2 separate regions of the Homo sapiens genome follow, and region 1 is linked to region 2. The links come from fine-mapping of genetic effects on gene expression. A gene starts in region 2. The other region holds a variant in brackets. All regions are shown on one strand. Distances are from middle to middle.

Evidence for each region. PIP is the estimated chance that this variant, and not a neighbour inherited with it, causes the effect.
Region 1: its variant is the best candidate, but not a certain one, in a credible set for the expression of TUBGCP3 in whole blood (GTEx, PIP 0.55).

What each region holds. Positions count from the first base shown.
Region 1 is chr13:112,507,727-112,510,641 of GRCh38, reverse strand. All of the region lies in intron 17 of TUBGCP3 (tubulin gamma complex component 3), which reads left to right. Among named protein-coding and RNA genes, the nearest start is that of TUBGCP3, 79 kb to the left of the region's middle. RefSeq lists an enhancer at 2,104-2,915. The variant A/G (reference allele first, on the strand shown) is at 1,386.
Region 2 is chr13:112,586,841-112,589,755 of GRCh38, reverse strand. It overlaps TUBGCP3 (tubulin gamma complex component 3), which reads left to right and starts at 1,603. Exons shown (of 22, transcript NM_006322.6): 1 at 1,603-1,851. The coding sequence starts at 1,776. LOC124903251 (a long non-coding RNA gene) reads right to left here and starts at 1,570. Exons shown (of 2, transcript XR_007063945.1): 1 at 340-1,570. RefSeq lists an enhancer at 788-1,607 and silencers at 1,673-1,892, 1,923-1,982, 2,013-2,132.

The DNA of each region.
Region 1 (2,915 bases), 79 kb after region 2:
GAAAGTACTTGGAACAGCACCTGCCTGTGGTGAGTGCCCCCAAGTTCACTGTTGCCGTGATTACTTGCCTGGGAGAGCAGGAATGCCGATGATGTAAGGATGAGATCCTCAAAGGTGGTTAGAGACTTTGAAAACAATCCTAGGTCTTAACAAATGTCATCTGGATCCTTAGTCTTGAGAAAAATAGATCAGATGGGTACTTTGATAAGGTCACTTTTAAATACAGTAAGGTCACTTTTAAATACATAAATACGGGTTGAGGAGGTGATTTTGAAATTGTGAACAAATTGTTTTAAGGTCTTTTCTAAAAAAAACAAATATCATGTTTAGCAGTACTCGATGCTATCTATAGGGGCATCTCCGCATGTGAGGGGGTTCTGGCGGAAGGTGCCTGAACAAGTCCTTAAGAGCCGGTGTTTGAGTCAAACTTGAAGTTCTTTCGACAGCCTTTAGGGGTCAGTGGAGAATTACAGAAGAGCCTGGCACTTAGCTGCTGCCCAAGCGGGAGGAGATAGTGGCTGCCCAGTTTTGTGTATCGGCCGTCCAGTGTGGCGTCGGCCCTGCAGGAGATGTGCATCCTGTATTCATTGGACCTTATTGCCAATGTTGCTTTGCTTTTGGGATTCTTATAATTATATAGTTACTTGTGGGTCAGCCATAAAAACACATTTAAAACATGTGCCTAAAATATATTTTCAGAGTGCTGGGTAAAGAGATCCTAGGCATGTTGGCAGGTGTAAATGGAATTTTTTAGGAACTAAAGGACTAATTGTGCCTTGTGAATTGAGTTCATAGTCATTACAGCCTTAGAGTAGTTAGAAGTTCAGAAATACTATTGCCTGTAGTGTTTAATTTCTCATTTGGGAAAGAAAAATAATTGTGATATTGTAGGGATTTCAGACTTCTGTCATGTGGATGGTTTTACGAGGTTTCTTTTCAGTAGCAGCGTCCTCAGCAGCAACCATATGTCTCTCACTGTCAAGGGGCTTTGTCTCAAAAGAAGACCATTGAAGATACTGTCCTCCGTACTCATTGTAGACACAATAAAAGATGATTTTTCTAGAAGGAAAACTGTATTCGCTGGTAGTACTTTAAGACTGTAAAAGGAAAGAACACCTATATTCACATTGTTGCTAAATTGACCTTGCTTATAGAAACCTTTTGAAAGGTGTGAGTTTGAGTACTCAAGATCTGGAGGAATGCAGACTGCCTGCTCTGACGTCCAGTGTCAACATCACGCATTCTTTCAGGAAATCATCATTGAGGGCCCACTTAGTGCTCCCTGTTGCTGGCTCCCAGTGACAAGGTGACAAACCAGCTCCCTGTGGCCAAGCAGCTCATGGCCTATTAGGGCAGAACAGATGTTTACACAGGATCTTACAGTC[A/G]ATCGATACGGGAAAATCCAAGTGGCATGGGAATGTTTAAATGAGGCATCTGACAGACGTGGGTGATTCCAGAAGGCTCCAGAGGTGATGGTGTCCAGGCTGGCCCCTGACAGGTGAGGATGAGCTGTTCGGGTCAGTGGGGAGGAGAGCAGCATGTTCAGCTAAGCTGTGGAGGGGGACTGTGCTGCAACATGGGGCTGGAGAGCCCAGCCACGAGCACGTCCTGAAGGTCTGGATTCAGGTAGTTGAGAATAATGAACCTGGGGCGCGACCGTGGTGATTAGCAGGGCAGCCAGTTGTAATAATCCGTGTGCGGTGACGTTGGCCTTTATGGTTACAGCAGCCGCGGGGCTGGAGGGAAGGGAATGGATTTGAGGGAGGCTTGGGCTGTGGCGCCAGCAGGACCAGGTGATGCGTGTACGGAGGCCAGGAGGTGGTTGGAGTCTCAGTGGCACCTGGGTCTCTGACTTGAGGACCTGGTGGGTGGTGGCATCTTTTACCACCCAGGGAGCACTGGAGGAAGAGCTTCTTTGGGGGGGATAGTGATTCCATTCAAATACGCTAATTTGAGTATTTTTTAGGATACCTTGTGAGGCCATTAATCAGACTGATCTTAAACTTAAGATAGATCTAGACTAGAGGTAAAGATTTTAGATGTCATCAGCCTGGATGATACTTGAAGTTGTGGAGTGGAATGTGGAAGGGACATCAGTGCGTGGGAACTGCAGTCTCACAGGGTGCCGTGGCTAGGAGGAAGATGGGGTTGGGGTGGGGGCTGTAGACCTGTCTGTCGTGGTGCACGATACCTTTTCAACTAACAGGCCCCTTCTGGGCTGCCATATGGCATCTGAAAATTTAAAGATATACTACAGAAGAGTTGGGCAAAATCAAAGTCAAAACTTCTAACGAAGTTAGACGCTTTGTTTGTTGGAAGGCTGTTTGAGATGCCGATATGGAGAAGGAGGGGGAGGCTGAAAATCACAGAGGAGGAATAGATGGATTCAGAGTGAGGGGATACGGGTTGGCCTTTTAAGTGTGTGCTAGGAGGGAGAGGCGGGCTTGGAGTGACTAGGGGGCACGAGGGATACAGGCAGAGCCAAAGCCATGACAGCGAAGCAATGCAAACCTGGTGGGGCCAGGGCTGCGGGATGCTGAGGCTGGGAGTGAGGGAGAGAAGGGGAAGGCCCCAGGCAGCACTGGGATGGGCTGGAGTGGGATGTCAGGAGTTTAGGCTGACACTGAGCATTGCATGACAGTGTTGTTTGGTAGATGGGTTTGTTTTGTTTTGTGGCCATTCAGTAGCATTTTTATTTCCCAGTGTGACATTAAAGAATCTAGAACATTAATCAGAGAAATTGTACACTCAAGAAAATCAAGAGATTCTGAAATAGAATTAGTGATTTAATCACTAATCACTGTGTATCTACTTTCAGACTGATTTGAAGCCGGAGAAAAAAATTCCTGGTTTCATAAATAGCGCAACAGTGAAAAGTAGAAGACGTTAGCAAAAGCATATTCGTGCCATGAAAA
Region 2 (2,915 bases):
TATCTTGCTTTTTTGAGTGTCTTTGAATGGCCTGGAATCTTGATAATGGCTAATGATTTTGGCAATAGTATGGCTTGCCATAATTCTGAAACAAGGCACCCATTTTTTTGTGGGCTGACTAGAAAAGGTTAAAAATCCTTTGTCTCCATAGCATTCCAAAGTTATGAGCTACTCTATAAGCATACCTGCTATTGGTATAAAGATTAGCAGTTATTCCTTTTGCCAACTGACAGGCTCTAATTAATGCTATTAACTTTGCTTGTTGAGATGATTGCTCCTGGAAGACAAGCACTTTCTATTTCTTTGGGCAAAGACGCTATGGCATAACCAGTGTAATACCTTCCAGCTGCATCTTTAAGTAAGAGCCATCTGTAAACCAAATAACATCAGCGTTAGTGAGGGGGGTTCTTGCATGTCTGTCCTAGGAGAGAGCTGGTCAGGTAAGATGATGCAGTCATGCAGCGTTTCAGCTGAAGGTGGGGGAGAGGGTGGCAGGATTTAGATGACATCTGGACATTGTAGTATGCGGCTGAGAGAATAACTTCATGAGAAGCCAGTTACTAACTGATCGTGTTGAGTGTGATGCAAGTTTAGAAGCGTTTCCACAGAATGCGTATCGAAGGCAGTGAGGGGTGATCGCATCCTTGGTGGTTTGGTTGCTCTTGCAGAGCTGTGATGGTTGTTGCATCATGCAAGGAGACAGTCCTTTAGCTGTAGGGTCTAGTTGTTGACTGTAATACCCTACAAGTCTGCTTTGTCTCCATGTTTTTGAGTCAGAACGACAACAAACGTTTTACTTGCCAACAATTCTGCAACCTGAGCTGGACCCAGGCCCGACGGGCTTTGCAGACAGTCACGTGTGTGGCTGGCCTCAGCTGGGATGTTGGGATAGCTGGGTTGTCCTCCCTCTTCCATTTCATAGGATCTCGGGATCTCTTTCCATCATTTTTCCTTAGGAAGTTGGCCTTTTAACATGGTAGCTCACGGCTCCCAAGCGTGCACCCATGTGTAAGCTTTAACGATTGCACTGAAGTTGGCTTGGTGTAATTGTCTGCTTATCGATCTTTTTCTCGGCAGGTTTCCTGTTCTCTCACTCCGTACGTGATTAATTTATTTTCCCAGGACGTCCCAGTTACCCGGGCCGGGGGGGACCGGCCCGCGCGGCAGTGCGAGGTCGGGCCTGAGCAGGGCGCCTGTTGGATAGCGTAGCAGGTGAACTGCCCACTGCACGTTAACAATCGTAACACCCTGCACCCTTTAAACAGGCTTCTTTTTTCTTTTCTTTTTTAAACAGGCTTCTTTCATCAGAAGTGTGAATCAAACCAATGCCGTTAACACACACACCCCCACACCCACACACCAAATTATGGCCTTTATGGTGCTACCGGCCACCAAGTGCCCTCCAAGCAAGCCCGTCACGCTCGCGACTCCGGGGCCGCTCTGTCCGCGCAGCTCGAGGGCCTCGGGCCACCTGTCGCCCGGAACTTTCTCGGCCGACCGGGCAGCAGCAGGGGGAATGCACCAGACAGGGCCGGGAACGCTTAGGCAGCCGCACGCGCGGCCGCGGCGCAGGGAAGAAGCGGGGCATTGTGGGAAGCGCCCGCGCTTTCGGCGGGTTCCGTTAAAATGGCGCCCTGGTGGCCGGCGGCGCCCGCGCCTTAGCCTGTCAGGAGCAGGGAGCTTGCGGGGCGCAGGAAGGGCGCGGGCCGCGGTCCCTGCGCGTGCGGCGGCAGTGGCGGCTCTGCCCGGACCACCGTGCACGGCTCCGGGCGAGGATGGCGACCCCGGACCAGAAGTCGCCGAACGTTCTGCTGCAGAACCTGTGCTGCAGGATCCTGGGCAGGAGCGAAGGTAGAGTGGCCGGGCGACGCGAAGCCCGCAGACCCGTCCCGGGGGCTGCTCCCTGCGCGTGCAGCCCTAATACGTTCCGGGGCTGGAGGAACGAGGATGCAGGGCCGGGCAGAGGGCTGGGGGACGGGCCGAGGACGTGGGGCCCGGACGAGGGAGCGGAGGGCTGGGGTTCGAGGGTCAGGGAGCCGGGGAGGACAGCGGAGGGCTGGGGGCCAGGACCGGGGCGGAGGGAGTGGAGAGGCCAAGGCCGGGGCGAGAACGCCGGGGCGGGAGGCGGGAGGGCGGAGCCGAGCCGGAGCGGGCTGAGTCACCGCTCACTCCGCTCGCGGGTCCGTCAGTGAGGACGGGAGGAATGCCAGCTCGCCAATTTATCCCCCTTCTCTGGTGTCACGCGCCGTGGGAGGGCGCCTCTGCGCGCCTTTGGGTTCATCCTGTGGGGTGGAGAGAGCGGCTGCGCCGCGGAGGTGGATGCGGGGTGCTGGAGTGTCACATCATCGTCCCTTTTCGTTAGGAAAGTTTAACAGGCTTGAGTATTATGGGAAGAGGGTGTTAACGACTGTAACTGCCGTGTTTTCCTACTGTTTAAAGGGTTGAAGGTTGGATTTGATATAAAACTATTCTGGGAAAGTTCACATGGCGAATATTGTTACTAATAAGCAAAACTAATCCTATACGGTAGGTAAAACCATTTTGTAGTCGAGGTACTTTGAAAGAAATGGTACAGGATGCCATTTCTTGCTCCTTGTTTTGGCCAGGTTGGTGGGGCAGAGAGTGAGGATGCACCATGAGGGAATTTTCTGAGTAATGGAAGCAACTGAGTTACATCTTAAGCACCAAAATGTGGAAAAGAAGTTACTCAATTTTTGAAGGAAGACTTCAAAGTTACATTTAAAGTACTGAGAATGCATTTTGACCTTTCATGCTTCATGACAATTACTGTACATAATTCATTGGATGTTCTATGATAATCTTGGGGCAATCATGAATAATTTTGTGTCGCTATTAAATGAGTGACTTCACACAGTTCTTGCTGCATCTTGTAAAGTTTGATTCTATCACTTTAT